Linked DNA regions of Homo sapiens. The protein of the gene in region 1 purifies or fractionates together with the protein of each later gene. This does not show direct contact. Each region holds a gene or a part of one and is shown on either strand. Other genes may lie near its edges.

What was found. Proteins that work in one complex are often made in the same cells at the same time.
Region 2: the proteins of FAXC (region 1) and MTX2 purify together in Homo sapiens (co-immunoprecipitation; 2 studies listed by BioGRID and IntAct, with this or other methods). This does not show direct contact.
Region 3: the proteins of FAXC (region 1) and ODR4 purify together in Homo sapiens (co-immunoprecipitation; 2 studies listed by BioGRID and IntAct, with this or other methods). This does not show direct contact.
Region 4: the proteins of FAXC (region 1) and TEX2 purify together in Homo sapiens (co-immunoprecipitation; 2 studies listed by BioGRID and IntAct, with this or other methods). This does not show direct contact.

What each region holds. Positions count from the first base shown.
Region 1 is NC_000006.12:99,279,683-99,283,864, reverse strand, and holds part of FAXC (failed axon connections homolog), read left to right. Parts: intron 1-2,411; coding exon 2,412-2,701; 3' UTR 2,702-4,182. UniProt on the Homo sapiens protein: May play a role in axonal development.
Region 2 is NC_000002.12:176,324,572-176,328,753, reverse strand, and holds part of MTX2 (metaxin-2), read right to left. Parts: intron 1,930-4,182; coding exon 1,853-1,929; intron 462-1,852; coding exon 369-461; intron 1-368. UniProt on the Homo sapiens protein: Involved in transport of proteins into the mitochondrion.
Region 3 is NC_000001.11:186,381,968-186,386,149, reverse strand, and holds part of ODR4 (protein odr-4 homolog), read right to left. Parts: intron 3,129-4,182; coding exon 2,994-3,128; intron 163-2,993; coding exon 67-162; intron 1-66. UniProt on the Homo sapiens protein: May play a role in the trafficking of a subset of G-protein coupled receptors.
Region 4 is NC_000017.11:64,193,449-64,197,630, forward strand, and holds part of TEX2 (testis-expressed protein 2), read right to left. Parts: intron 1,648-4,182; coding exon 1,447-1,647; intron 442-1,446; coding exon 111-441; intron 1-110. UniProt on the Homo sapiens protein: During endoplasmic reticulum (ER) stress or when cellular ceramide levels increase, may induce contacts between the ER and medial-Golgi complex to facilitate non-vesicular transport of ceramides from the ER to the Golgi complex where they are converted to complex sphingolipids, preventing toxic ceramide accumulation.

The DNA of each region.
Region 1 (4,182 bases):
AGTAAGGAATGGATTTGATTGAGTCAAACAGGGCTGTCCCCAGGTCCTACTGTGAAGTGACTGTATTTCATCTTTGATGTCTCTTTACCTCCCCAATTAGATATTTTTTTTTTCTCTTGCTGCTGCCCTCACATCTTTATTCAATTCTTGGTCCCCTGGGATTGGCAGCAATACCTGGTGAGGCGTTTCATGACTGTCCCCATAAGGGAGAAAGTAAGTGAAGGTTTTCCATGCTGCATCTCCTCAAAAGGAGCAATGGTGTTGACTTCTCAGTTTCTGGCTCCTGAGCATGTGCACAGATATCTTCTAGAAGAGAATAGATTTTTACATAGTGGGGGTTGAGCTGTTATAATTTGAGAAGACTGGAAATGGTGACCTGGAGCCAGTACATGTCCATGGGATCCATGAAGCAGGGGGATTTGCTTTGTTATGTTTTGCAGGGGATGTAAGTAAAACAGCAATCAAGTTTTGAAAAATTTTAACATGAGAAAATGTTTACAATAATGTTACAGGAGATAATATGTAATAATAATGGCAATAGGTAAATAGAAAAAATACTGAAAGAAGTTACACCAAAATGTTAATTGTGATTATCTTGGATCGATGAAATCATGGGTACTTTTTGTTTTCTTCTTTATGTATTTGTACAGTTTGTCTATACAGACTAATTCTAATTTTCCAAAATGAGAATATGTTATTTTCCTTAACAGAAAAATAAGATAGAGTAGTGACAGACTATAATCAACAGAACCATTAATATGGAAACAACCTAAACGACCTGTGATAGGGGATTCATAAAGACAAACTGAAGCTATGGTACAGCCATATAACATAGTGTGCACTTATCACTGTGATCAGAGTGTGACATTCAAAGATTTTTATTATACGTTGTTAAGTGGAAAAACATAGGATAGGAAAAAGAATATATAGTAAATCCTATATAGCACATGTAAATATATGTAAATGTATATGTAAATATGTACCTTTCTGGAAGAACATAAATGAAAATGTTATGGGGAATGCGATTATTGGTAATGCTTTTATTTTTTGCTTATCTGTTTTTTCTAATTTTCTGCACTAAAACATGGATTGTTTACACAATAAGTGAATGTTTATATAACTCAAATCCAAAGACATTCTTAGAGTAATAATGTCCTATAAGAGATAGTAGCAAATCATATATTTATAAGCAATGTTGCCATCTGCTGGATCACAGGGAGAAACTCACCCTCTTTCTTTTTCATTTGGAATTAGGAAATGAAGGCCAGGTAGAGTGGCATGTTTCAGACAAATGCCTAGACAGTAATAGTGACTTAACACAAGAGTTCTTTTGATTCACATAAAAAAGAAGTAATCTAGTGACCGAGTGGGACCCGGATCCTGAGTACCGCTGTTCAATTTCATGTAAAAATTTAAAAATATCTTATACTAAGTGTGTTTGCAGGCACACTTATCCATAAAGACAATTCTGAGTTATCCATTTTATGGATTTTTTGGGGGGAAAGGTTTATGTCCTAACATAACTTTTTTCAGCTGCTTGGCATGGTACTCAGCCCACAGCAACACTGCGAAAATTTGTGGAGTAAATGATTACTTCTGGCTGACTTAATGCAACCAACAGTTTGACGTATTTTTATGGAATATAAATTAATTTATATATGAACCAATCACAGCATTAGCTCTCTTGATATGTAAACATAAAATAATAAAATGCTTCCTAAAGCCAAATGATGGTAGTTTATCTGCCATTTTGGATAAACTACCTTGCCACTTCTCATCATCATCGGACTCACTTCTTCATTTCATTCAGCACACTCACTGAATGTAACTTTTCTCACTCACCGTTTTTATTATGTGCATAAAAACCTAAATATTTTCACAGTATCTCTATGGAAAAATACTGTTAATGTTTACCTTCCCCGTTATTCCAGTTTCCCAGAAAGCCTAGTGGCTGGATGTCATAGTTTGGGCCGCTGTTGCAAAATGCCATAAACTTGTTTGCTGGTAAACAAGAGGAATGTATTTCTCACAGTTGTGGAGTCTGGAAAAGTCTGGGAAATGCAGGATCATGGTGGGAAATGCAGGATCACGACTCTGGCCCATTCAGGATCTGGCGAGGGCCTGCCTGGGGGAGGGACCACTTCCTGCTTCCTGGACACAGTGCTGTCTTGCTGTGTCCTCACATGGTAAAAGGGGGAAGGCAGCTCTCTCAGGCCTCTGTTATGAGGTACTAGTACCACGAATGAGGGCTTGGGCCTCATGAACGAACCACCTCTTAAAGGCCCCACCTCCTTAGACCATCACATTGGGAGTCAGGATTTCAACATTGGAGTTTTGGGGCAACACAGACCATAGAAGTGGTAGACTGCTGCCTTTGAGAACTAATCCTTGCTTTCCTTACCACACTGCAGGTGAGCTGATCAACCTTGCCATGTACTGTGAGAGGATAAGGAGGAAATTTTGGCCAGAGTGGCACCACGATGATGACAATACCATCTATGAGTCTGAGGAGAGCAGCGAAGGCAGCAAAACCCACACCCCGCTGCTGGATTTTAGCTTTTACTCAAGGACAGAGACCTTTGAAGATGAGGGAGCAGAAAACAGTTTTTCCAGAACCCCAGACACAGATTTTACTGGACACTCACTCTTTGATTCGGATGTGGACATGGATGACTATACAGACCACGAACAGTGCAAGTGACGTCCAGCCTCACTGACCCTCTTCCTTGGGACCTGCCACTCCCTGGGTCGGTCCATTTTCCCAGGTAGCAATCCATCCGAGCTGGGAGGAGATCTTCGTGCTTGGCAGAGTTTTCACATGCTAACTGGACTATAGCAGCCTTATTTCTTTTTTGTACAAACAAAACACAGAACCATTCAGATGACTCCATTGAAAACAAACAGGCAAAAAATAATGTCAGCATGGTTCCTGAAATCCATTTTTGTTTTCATTAGAAAACTATTAATAATATTGTGTGGTAGAGCAGGTGTAAGAGCTGGTTGTCAGCTGATAGTTTTTATGATGATCCTCTTCAACCCTGAGGTCTTAATTGTGAGATGGATTCTTGAACCTCCTTCCTCCACCAGGATTTGAAGTAATGAGAGATATCATCAGAAAAATGTTTTACGGTGGCTGCTTGTACTTTATGTGTGTATATTGTATGTTGAGACATAAGTCAAATAAAATCCACAGATATTAAACGAACACCTACTATGTGCAAAGCACTGTGCTAGGTGCTAATCAGTATACATTTTATTCTAAGCCCTGCCAGTGACTAGCTGTGTGATTTTGAGCAAATCTCTTATTAACTATTGGGTGCCTCATTTCTCCCACCTGTAAAGTGGGGATGACAATACTCTCCACCTACCTACCTCACAGGGGTGTTGTGGGGATTCATGTGGTAACATTCGTACGGCGCTTTAAACCTCTTAGAAGTGGTGCGACATAAACACAGCATTTTATTCTTTATTGCACTTCATGCATGTGAAGATTTGAGGGCAAAGGAATTCCATATCCAGGCAACCACCACCACAGTCACCTGCAAAAGCTGAGCAGATGAAATACACACAAAGGTACACTTAGGACTTTGTCATGATTCCTTTCTGTAATCTTGGCTGAATCAAAATCTTTTGTTCAAAGAACATTGGAAATGTTTTTACAAATTATCGACAGCTACAAACAGTCTTCAATTCTACCATGTATTTGCAGAAAAGTGGTTCTTTCATTGCCTGAACTCACCCTGGCATGTTCTGTGTTGACTCCAGAGTGTTACGTTGCCTATGTTTGATTTATTTGAGAAGAATAAATCTCAGGTATATGGCAGGTTTCATAGAGTTGAAGGGAAAGTATTTCATTGATTTTTATAAGCAGAAGCCTGCCAACTTGTAATGTCTTTTTGAAAACAAACCTTGCAAAGATGTATTGAAAAGATGAAGTAGCAAGAGGATACTTGTATCAAAGCACTCTGTGCAGTGTTAGACTATATGCAGTTTTATTAATGCAACTTTTCTGGTGTTTTCAGCCACTGCCCAGTGAGAGGAGAGCAATGCTGAGAACAAGTCTTAATGTTTTTGCTGTCTCATCCCCGTTCTCTCTCTCTTTCCCTATAGTATTCGATGAACTGTTGGCTTACCCATATTTGTGAAGGCACCCTATTTCTAAAGATGAAGTTGTTGTTGTTG
Region 2 (4,182 bases), on another chromosome or scaffold:
TTGTTTTTCTTAGCTGCTATCCACAAAAATGTAATGATGGTACGTTATAAAAATATTTTTTATTCACACAATACATGTCTAAATACCATTAAAGTGTTTTACAGATATTATTTAAGCAAATTTCAAAAGGCCAAAGTAAAATAATGAGTAGGCAAGAATCACTCCTTTTTATAAACAGAAAAACTAGAACTGAAAATGTCAGGTAACTTGTTCAAAGGTAATAATCAAATAATTTAGGTAGCCAACTCAACTCTAGAATTACTTGACTATTTTCCCATTTCTCAATAACTTTAACCCATAAGAAAGATTATATTTTATGAGAATGAGAGAAAAAGCTTATTTTCAAGCCGTATCATCTAGTATTTTACCTCTGCAGTCAACAGCATATTGTTGACTAATTCCATGTAAGCTTTCATTTCTGCTTTTTGGACTTCCTCCAGCCCATCACTAAGAGAATGGCCCTAAAGGGAATTTAAAAAAATTTAAAAGAACATCATATTAAATATACAAAAACTTTCAGTTATCTCACTAACAAATAACGTAACATGCAACTATACAATGAATTAAACGTCCAAAATGCCCCCTAAAAATTATTTTATATAAAAGCATAAATAATACTCTGCTATCACTACAAAATATTAGTATGTACTTACTTGTCATTATACAAATGTATCTTTCAATAGAGAAAATTACACTATCAACTACTTCACAAAAGAAGAAAACAGAATGGTCAGCAAACCTTGTTTAAGAGATTAACCTTATTTAGAAATAAAGGAAATGCCAAAAGACTGACATGTGCTGTTTATAAAGTGGTCAAAGATGAAAAAAATACGTTTGTAAAGATATGGGGGGAGAAACCCACTTATTTTAAAATTCTAATACTCTATAGTTACTAGGAGATACATAAAATGATATAACCTTTAGTTCAATCTGGCAATCTATTACAAGATTTAAAAAGTACATAACCTATGACATCCTAATACCACTCTCAGGAATTTATCCTAAGGTACCAATACCAACCTTAGGAATTTATACAAAGATGTATATATAAGAAAATTTATCTTAGTACTCTATAAAAACAAAAAATTGGCCATGACCTAAAAGCCCAACAATAAACTTGAGTAAATAAAATTCTAATTTATCCAATACAGGGGGAGGGTGTTGAAGAAAAAAAAAATAATATATATATATATTTTGGAGATATATATATATCTCCAATACAGCAGAATACAACAATGTGAAAGGATGATATATACCTACAGCTATTAATATGGAAGAATTTCCAAACATATTTATGATTTTAAAAGGTATGTTGCAAAATAATACACACTAGTATGATCTAGGTTTTTCTATATATTCAAAAAGTCTGGAATGATTTTTCAGAAACACTAATGGGAGTTGTTCCTTAATAACTATTAAAATCTAAACTGAATAAATGAAAAGCAGAATCATTCAAATGGATAAATACATTCAACTTCAAACAAATCCTGTATCTCCCTTTTCAAAGGTCAGCCAGACACTTCAAAACCTAATAGTTTTTCATTTATGACCACAGTTGTAGTAAGCATAAGTTAGAAAATTATCTACCATTTTGTAAAGATCAAACCATCTCTTTAGACTAGATATTAAAATTACATACCTTTAATAAATTTGACATTAATAGAGGAAAAAAAGCTACCTCTTTTGCCATTATATCATGAAAAAATACTAACTTACACTTCAGAAATATTTTCCAGTAGTTTGCATTGGCATTTTATAAAACTAGGTTGAAATCAATGTAAATGTTAAGACACATTAAAGAATGATGAATGACTTGGTAACTGATCAAATACATTTAATATCTTTTTATTACCTTGGCTTTAACAAATTGGACTATTGGACCAAGTTCTGATACTACTTGATTTCCCACATGAATAAAAGGTACTTTACCTGTTGAGAGAAAAAAAAAGTATTTATAAAAATACTTCCAGTATGTTAAAGTTTGTGATAATTAAAAAAAATTAACACAAAACTCAGGTATTTATAAATAGGGATTTCATAAAACTGTAACTTTTGAAAATTTTTGTCAGATGTGTATATTAAATTCTGTAAGTTTTTAAACTGATTACTAACCAACTTTAGAAAAAAAGAACAGGTAAATTCATTTCTAGAGTTCTCACTTAGATATAATAACAGATCACATAACATTCTCTTTTCAGAGCCAACACAAACATATCACCATATAGCAGCAAACACTAATTATCCAAATTACATGAACCAAGCCAGGACACTGGTACATGACCACTGATATATTTCAAAGAAATGTAAGCTTTCTTTTCAGAGTACAGTGAATCAATCTATATTGTAAACTACATTTAAAAAACCTTTTTACATCTTTTAAGTCTTTGATACCCATTGAGATCAACATTTTAAGCAAGTAATTGTATATCAATAAATCTCTTTAACTCAAAATAGCAAGAATTAAAAGAATTAACAATCTTTGAAGGCATGCTAGTTGGTGAGTTGTAATACAGAGTATGTTCCCAACATGTGGGAAAAAATAATAGTATGTTTATAAAAACTAGCTTCTATAGATAAATGTCACATTAAAAAAGAAATATTTCACTTTAACAAATACTAATACTTGGAATTATTAGAGATGAGAGAACAAAATAATCTCCAAATAGCAAGAAGGGTCTACTCCAAATGCTAAAGAATGAAACCTGCTGTCACACCTAGTTCAAATAGAGTTCACACTAACAGCAGGCTTCTTCCTGTTCCTTTTCAATAGATTCACTCCTCTCTGGCTCCGTCAGCCTGGGGGTAATGGATGAAGTACAGAGGCCTAACAAAAGCTTCAACTGCATCCATAGGACAACATGCATTACAAAGAAAAGGCAGGCCTTTTGGAACACAACAACTCAATAGATGTATTGAGAAGATATTTCCCTGTTGCCAATTCTGCATTCCTTCCTTCTACTGCTTTATAAATCTTGCAAAAAAAAATTTTTTTATCTGGTTAAGCATTAGGCCACATTGTTTTCTTAACTCGGGATAAAATCTTTGTAACTACTATACTACCAGAATTATTACAGGTCCCCTGAGATCAAATGATCTGAGAATGAAAACTATTTAGTACCTAGACAAACAGTATTTGGGGGTATAATATTTTTAGAGCAAAGCATATTCCTTGTTTTTAATGACCAGTTTCAGGTTCTTGGAAAAAAGGGTTTGTATTTTTTTTCTTTTCTTAAAAATACATTGAGCGTTGTCAATTCTGAAGCAAAAAGAAGTGTGGATAGTCAACTGAGTATTAATCTTATATATCTCTAAATATAAAGAGATATATAAAAACAAACACAACAAATTAGAAGTGAATAATGTTTTCTGTCACTAGCCTGCTTAATGAAAATGGAGCCAATGTTATATCCTTATTATTGCAGGTATCAGGCAAAAACACAGTAAGACAGTTATTTTCTGGTGCGAATCAAAGGTCATATAAGAAAACTGAGGGCTTTGTTTACCGTCTTAGACAGAATAATCACTTTTAAAATTTTTATTCTAAAGAAAGCAAGAATATGTTGCCAAACAAGTTGGCAGATTCAAAGAATGCAAGAAATAGGACCTTGGATGTCATCTAATCCGGCTACCTTATATTACAGATGAAGTCACTGAGGCTCAGAGAAGTGAAATTTCTCAAGGAAATAGTTAATATGTGACAAAGTCACAGAAGGATTAGTTAAAGATTTCCTAACTCTTTAGGAAATAAGAGTTTAAGTCAACTGGTCTTCTGACTAGTCCATGCTCTCTGCTTTAAAAATCTACCGCAAGATCAAAGAAGCAAATACAATAAAAAACATTTCCCTATCACCTCAAATCATTAAATGAAAGAGAATACCAATCTGAGATATGATAAAGTTTAAATATCTTAGTAGAAAGTGCCATTTTCATCTACCTATAGGAGACTCCTATGAAAGAATGTATATTTTTGTATGTCTCTAGAATATTTATGTTTGTCTTTCGCGCAATCTAATAAAAAGAAAATAGGTATCTACCTAAATGACACTAAGTATAGTAATTTTAGGAAACAGGTAGATAAACTATATTGATATCTCACTTGCCAAAGATCTGAACTTTAGCATTAGATTACTAACCTTCTAACCTTTTTACATAAATATACAAACTGTTTGTATGACTACATAG
Region 3 (4,182 bases), on another chromosome or scaffold:
TACTCATAATCAGTAAAAATAACATATAACTGATTTCATTAAGAATTTTCGATATATCAAACTTACTCTACGCAGGGCATTTTGAAAATCATTTGCCAGTTCTAAAGTAGTAATAATAAATACTCCAAGAACTAAAAGTCCCCCTGGTAGCATTCTGGATACCTAAAAATAGAAATATATTATTAGCTAACAAATTGGCATTATATGCAATCCTTTCTGTTTGAGAAACTGTCTGCTTAGCATGTCCTTAGCTTTTCACCTTAAAACTACTTTATAAATAAAACTATCTGATAACAACATCCTTTAGCTACATCAATAAATAAATCCTTTTCTCAGGAGATCAAAGACTGAAATATTTTTTCAATGGCGTCCCACCATCAGCTAAATAAAATGAAGTTTTATTTTAGATTGATATTTCAGACTTTCTAGGATCTGGTCAATGATGTTTATACCCTCATTTGACACTACTTTTCCTCAAGTAATTCAAATATTTGTCAAAAACTACTTGAAAAGTAGTGTCAAATGAGGCTATAAACTGTTTTCCATACACATCCTAGGCTTTCTAACTATGTGTCTTTACTCAGGGTGTTCCCTAGGCCGAAACTGACTTTTTCTTATACTTCTGCATGTCTCAACCCTACTGGATACTTCAAAGGCAGCTTGAGGAAGCTGCCTTCTCTGATCTTTTCATCTCTGAACTCCGACAGGGCTTTGGTGTAGTTTTCCCATGGATTTTATCACATAGTCTTATATCATAGTTATCTGTGAACCCTACTAGTTGGTCAGGGAGCTCCTTAAGGGAATAAGTAATTCTACCTCTGTATCCCTATTTTTAGCAGCATACTAGATCTGGAATTTGAACAGAGGGAGTCTGACTTGAAAATCCATTATTTTCTATTGCATAGATTAACCTCAAATTTTTAAGCCCACTTACTGATACTGGGCATCTTTGCTATATCTAATTTTACCTTAAAATAATATTGATTAAAAATCCTAGTACATCTTTCTGCATTCATAGAATTATTTGTTTAGGACAAATCCCTTGAGGTGGATAACTGGTTTAAGAAGTTATACATATTTTTAAGGTTTTTGATACATACTACCATGATATCTCCATATCTGTATTTCCCTTCACATGATTGTGGCTAGTTCTTAATACCACATGGATTTTTTTCTATCATCTACACTCAGAGATTAGAGTGTTTTGGTTAGCTTTTGATTACTTAATGTACAAGCAATCAATCAGAGTACAGTCTTAGAAAATTAGGTACCATGCTCTAATCCTTAATCTACTTGCACTATGTCTTTCGGTGTTTTCCTCTGATTTAATAAATTCTATTTACTATAGTAGCACAATTCTGACAAATAAAGTTTTCATATTTAGCATAAGGAGCCTGCATATCTTTTCAAAATCACCAACACAAAAAAGTAACCATTTTTTAGGAGATGGAGGTGAGAGCAAGAAAGGGGAAAAAGTAAAATTAACCTTTTCTTTCTAGAGGTAAAAGGTTAAGCTAATTTACTATATAAATTCATTAATATTCTGTGTGTGTGTGTGTGTGTGTGTGTGTGTGTGTCATATACAATTTTATGAGAGACCAAAAGCAAAATTAGAGTAGAAAGTTATTTACAAACCATTGGGAATTTAACTTTACATTACTTAATATTTTCTTTAGAAGATAGTTGCCATGTTTGTCCCCTTAAACACCATGTTGAAATGTGAACCCAAGTGGGGCCTAATGGAAGGTGTTTGGGTCATGGGGCAGATCCCTCATTAATGGCTTGGTTCCATCCTCAGAGCAGTGAATGAGTTCTCGCTATATTTGTTCCTACGAGAGCTGGTTGTTAAAAAAAAAAGCCTAGCACCTCCCAACCCCTTGCTTCCTCTCTGGCCCAGTGATCTTTACACACCAGCTCCAATCTGCCTTCTGACATGAACAGAAGCAGCCTGAGGCTTTGACCAGATGCTCAATCTTGCAGCCAGCAGAATCATGAGCCAAACAGGCCTTTTTTTCTTTATAAATTACTCAGTCTTAGGTATTCCTTAATAGCCACCCAAACAGACTAAAACAATAATAATTAAATACTGGATTTCTTCGTTTTGTTTTGTTGAGACAGAGTCTCGCTTTGTCGCCCAGTCTGGAGTGCAATGGTGTGATCTTGGCTCATTGCAACCTCCGCCTCCCAGGTTCAAGCAATTCTCCTGCCTCAGCCTCCCAAGTAGCTGGGATTACAGGCACCTGCCACCACACCTGGCTAGTTTTTCATATTTTTACTAGAGACGGGGTTTCACCATGTTGGCCAGGCTGGTCTTGAACTCCTGACCTCAGGTGATCCACCCACCTTGGCCTCCCAAAGTGCTGGGATTACAGGCAAGATTTTATTTTTTTTTTAAATATAACTACACACTGCTCCATAATCAAACACATACACAGACACAAATATATGTCCATATATATATATATATATATCTACATACACAGAAACACGTTTGAGTTTAAAAGATTTAAAGATTTAAAGTTGATTGGAAAAGGAAATAAATCTTTTATTTATTAAAGAAAATTCTTTTTCTTAAAACAAACAAACAAAAACGCAGAATGTGCAAGTCTGTCACATAGGTTTACGTGTGCCATGGTGGCTTGCTGCACCTATTGACCTGTCCTCTAAGTTCCCTCCCCTCACCCCCAACCCCAGAAAAGGAAATAATTCTATTTTTACCTTATTCTAACATTATTTATTTGATGATATATAATTCATTCAATAAATACTTGTAAGTGAATTAATTTAGTCATTATTCCCACTCACCCATCCCAAATCTGTTTCTTCCTCGTGTAATGCCAACAGTATCCTCCTAGACACCCAGACTAAAAATCTCAGTCATCTTTAGCTACTTTCTCCCTATGTCTCTTCTCTCTACTCATTCACTAAATCTTCTTGATTCTAGCTCTTTTTTGAAATAAAACTTAAACATATAAACAAAAAAATAAGATAACCTGGCAGGCATGTTCTGTGGCCCATTCTTCATCCAAGTTATCCAACTTAGCTTTGGGATGTTTGAGGTTCTCACTTTGCTCCTCTTTGGGTGGCGTTCTAGTGGCAAGAATCACATAATCCTTTTGTGACGAACACTTCAACAACAAATTAAAAAGCTTGTTAGAGTGATATCTGATTCCTCAATCTAATTAGAGTGATACCTAAATTCCTTAGCTTTTATGACATGCAAAAACTGAGTAATATTTGTAACAGGTTAAATCATTAATACCCACATTATAATGGAAGCTAAAGGGAAGCTAATTTTCAAGGATGGCCTTACAATCTTTCCCTCACATGTTGTTTATCTTTTAATGTATTTAATATCAGCTTCTTATTTATTTGGACAACTCAAATGTAAATCATGGAGTGGTCCCTAAAAATGGTTTACTGGATGAGTGAATGAATTACATTAACTAAAAAGTAATATGCTTATTCAGTTTTCTAGTTATATTTGTTTTATAAGTTATAAATGAACAGATCGGAAAATATTAGTAAAATGAAACAACAAGTGACCTTTTGTATCTTATTTTAATTGAAATGATGACAGTAGGGAACTTCCACATACATTTCCACAGAATAACAAAGGGGATTTGGGACACAATTTAAAGTGATACAGATTCTATGTTCCTCAAGTTTTTTGTTTTGTTTTGTTTTTTGTTCTTTGTGTGTGTGTGTATTTATTTATTTATTTAGAGACAGGGTCTTGCTCTAATGCCCAGGCTGGAGTGCAGTGGTGTGATCATAGCTCACTGCAACCTTGCACTCCTGGGCTCAAGCAATCCTCCCCCCAAGTAGTCTCCCAAGTAGCTAGGACTACAGGCTCAAACAATCAGCCATAATGCCTGGCTTTTTTTTTTTTTTTTTTTTACTTTTTTGTAGAGACAGAGTCTTGCTATGTTGCCCAGGCTAGGTCAAACTCTGACCTTCAAGCAATCCTCCCACCTCGGCCTCCCAAAGCATTGGGATTACAGGCATGAGCCACCACACCCAATCTGTTCTTCAGCTGTAATATCAGTTAAGTAGTAACCAAAGTTGGGAGATCTAAAAATAAATGTAGGGGAACATTCAATAGCTCAGTTTCACTACAGTGAAAGTTTCCTATAAAAAAAGAGTGAAAATAACACTGCTAATGCAAGTTAGCATTGTATC
Region 4 (4,182 bases), on another chromosome or scaffold:
TCAGTTCAGGGTGGGCTTCCTTCCTTCCTTCCTTCCTACCTGGCATTCTTTCTCTATTCTCCCTAGTGGCCCTTTAAAAATGCATAAGCATTTAGCACAAACATCATTACCTGGTTTACCTCCAGAGACACCCGATGACTTCTTGATTTCCGACTTTAGCTTAGATGCCAGAATAAATCTCCTAAACCATTCCTCTTTTTCTCGGCCAGTTCTCCCAAAGAGATAGAGTATCTGATCTCGCTGGCTAGATCTTGTTCCCTCCTGAGGGCGGGGTGGCTTCTTAGGGTCCTCACTTCCCTCAGCTGGCGGCTTCTCTTCTGAAGTCTCCTTATCAGTCTGAGCTTTAGACATAAAGTCATCTTGCTGACCAAGCTCGATACAAATGGGGTACTTTTTATTCCAGATTCGCTTTCGAGCCAAAGTTTTAGGTACAAGATAAATCTACAGAGAAAGAAAAATGATGATTTATATATTAAAGATTGGCTACACTATGCATTAATATTATGCATAGCACAAAGTGCAAACCTTATAGACTTTTTGACTAAAATGATGAATATGAAATAACTTTCAACACTTGTTCATAACATGACTACAGAAACTGGAATTTTCAGAAGTGTCTTGTTATTCTTCAAAATCATTCCACAAAGTAGGCATTTAATAATTTTGCGAGAGTTATAAATATCCGTAATTTTCAGGTGGCAGTAGCACAATAATAATGTTTAGCTGCTTATCATCAACTATGTTTGGCTATCAACTGAATTTAATGACCTTGGACCAAACTTAAGTTGGAAGAAAAAAAAAGATAGCTAAAATCTAGATGGGAAGCTAAAGTCAACCTTGAGTATCAAACTCAAGTTAAGAATAAACTTATATAAAAACTATTTTAAGTACTTCTCTCACATTGGAGAAATCTAAAGATCATTCAGATGAACTGTAAGAACAGAGAAACAATAGCTTTGTGGAATACATAATTTACATTTCTCACAAAAATAGAAGTATATAATACTTAATCAAAATGTAGTTATTTTGCATATCTATCATTTGCACATGTACAAAGACTTCAATAGTTAAGTACCGCAGAATCACCACACATAGCCACACAGCTTTTTGTTTGACTGAAATAATTAGCTTTTAAAGGCAGAATTCTGAGTGCACAACACTTGTTCCTCAAGTTGTGGTCTGTGGACCAGCAGCCTGAGTATCATCTGGGAGCTCATAAAAATGCAGGCCCGAGGCCCTGCCCACAGCTACTGAATCAGAATCTGCATTTAACAAGATGCCCAGGTGATGTGCATAAACTTTAAAGTGTGAGAGGTACTGTCCCCTAAGGTATACTGTTCAACGACCACAAACCTTTTTAGGGTATAAAAAAATGCAGTTAAGCATCCAAGATGCCATATGCTTTTCATTCATCTAAGCTATCCTTCCAAAATTGCTCAGGCTCACCTTGCTGTCTGAGAGGTCATAGATTTTCTGGCTGATGTAGGTGACCTCTGGCTTGGGTTCATTGTAGCTGGCCCTCCTGGATATATTTTTATTGGGCTTTGAAAGTCTTAAGGTTCCACCCTCAAGTCGAACAAAGACTGAATGTGTCAAAGTCGCATGGTAGGTTTCTGGATCATAGTTGTAAATCTCATTCATCCATCCCTGATGAAGAAAAACTTCCATTAGTAATATCAGAATAATCGCAAATCTGATTTAGTGTGAAATGATGAACACTGTGGTATTTGGGACACTGAAACCAAACTTGATCACGACACAGATATCAGCTCACCAATGACTACAGGTTGCAAAGAGAAGTGCTTAGCTGGGAGGATAACTGGAACTGAGGAGGTTTTTGATAACCAAAAATCTGGATTTGGAGGAAAAATGGCAATGTTCATTATCCTAAATAAAAGGTTCTTTCTTTTTTTAAAGCTTATAAGCACATCAGGAAACTCAGAAGATTTGTTCATGTGACTGAGCAAGCCTCTCTGCCTGACCTCCTTTGGGGTGATTAATCCCACCCAGTCTGGCCTTCTTAATTAGCTAAACACATGCTCTTCCCAGCCCAGTTGGAATCTTTGAAATTTCAGGTATTAATTCATGTTATCACAGGACTCAGAGAACTACCTCTCCACTTCTGTTGCACTACAATATGTACCTCATTGAAACCATGCAGTAAAGCAGATGATTGAGAATTAGGCATTAAATACATCGTAAATATAATCAATAATATATCAAAATTCAAAGATACATAGTAACTTAAATGGGTAAAATTGTGCTCCAGGTCCCCCTGCCAAATTGGACATAAATGATTTTGTGTTACATATCTTGATTTTTTAAAAGAGCCAACACTGAAATGTATGACAAAAAATACATACACAAAAGCCTAATACACTATACACTGTGTTAAAGCTAATCTCATAGCTGTCATCATCATTCATCACTGAACACTTCTCCTGCCTCAAATACTTTTTCAGGTTATGAGTAGCCCAGATCTCACAAAAGAAGTCCTCTGGGGAGTTTTAATTGATATCTTCCTACTCTCCCCAACTTTTTAAAAATACATGTCTTTGTAATGAGCAGAGAGATGCTAAAGCTCACTACATGGGAGTTGGGACTGTCATTCTTTTCAAGCAATAGCCATTTCCATGCTAAGTATTTGAGTCTCACACTAAAGTCTTGAATTGAAAGCCTATGAGAATGAGGACTCCTCAGAATTCTTTCATTCATCCTTTTATTAAAACACGCATTGAATCTATGTGCGAAGCAATGGGTTAGGAGTTGGGACAAAGATTTTTTAAAAGGACAGGATTCTTGATCCAAAGGTGCCTCCAAAAGAGTAGAGAATTAGGTCTTCATTCCCGTATCCTATGACCCCACTGTAGTAAACATAATAGAGACAAGTTGTCACAAACAGAGCACCTAAGTGTGAAGTGGAAGGAAAAATGGACAAACATATCTCTTTGTCATGGGGGAAAGAGTGTGAAACTTATGAGCCAATTATATGGATTTATATACCTCAGTAGATGTTTTGGCCTGAGCTGGGAGGTTCTCTCCCTCCTCCCAAAGAATGACCGGACAGGAGCAGCATCTATTCAACAATATTGAGTGAGCAAGCAGTGGCCATGGGAAGAGGCGTTTGTGAGGAAACAGCAACAATCAGAGCAATGAAGAGAAAAAGATGACAATTACAGATCACAGTGGGGCCTGAAGTGGACTGTATTGTCAGAGCATCCGTTTGGGTGGGTGTATTTTTGCTAAATGTAGAACTAAGTACTTTCTTTGGCTCACAGTTTTTTTGTCTTTTTCTTTAGTCTGTTCTTATGGCAAATTACATTCATTGACTTTCAAATGTTGAACCAGTCTTGCATTCTCAGGATTAAGGATGTATGAGTCATGATGTGCTGAAATTGGGCTGTATCAGCTCACAAGAACGGATTCTACACATCTCTTCCTAACTCCATGTTCAGTGACTTCACGTTGGTAGCTTTCAACTGGCAACAGTGGGAGTTGCTACATCACGGAAATCAGGGAATAGTCAAATCAAGATTTTTTTTTTTTTTTTTTTTTTTTGGAGAGCCAGTTTACCAGCATAACACTTTGCTGATATTTTGTTCATTTGTCCCTCTAAGTTCATGAAGGAAAATGGTCTATAGTTTTCTTGCAGTGTTTTTTGGTATTAATGAGCCTCAGAAAATGCAGGTAAGTGCATTTGGGAAGTGTTCCCTCTTCTCTATTTTCTGGAAGTTTGTGTAGAATTAATAATATTTCTTCCTTAAAGGTTTGATAGCATTTGCCCATGAAGCTATCTGGGCCTAGATTTTTCCTTGCAGAAAGGTCCCAAACTATGAATTCAATTTCTTTACTTGCTATTGGACTATTTAGGTTATCTATTTCTTCTTGAGTAAGCTTTGGTTTGTATCTTTCAAAGAGTTTATCTATTTTATCTATGTTGTCCAATTTCTGGGCATAATGTTGTTTACAATATTTCCCTATAATCCTGTGAATATCTGTAGTGTCTATGGTGATGCCCCCTCTTTCAGTCCTGACACTGGTAATTTGTGCTTCTCTCAAATCTTTCTTTTCGTATGTATGTATGCACATATATATGTATATATGTATGTATCTATCATCTATGTATTTGATACAGGGTCTTTCTCTGTCATCCTGGCTGTACTGCAGTGGCACAATCATAAC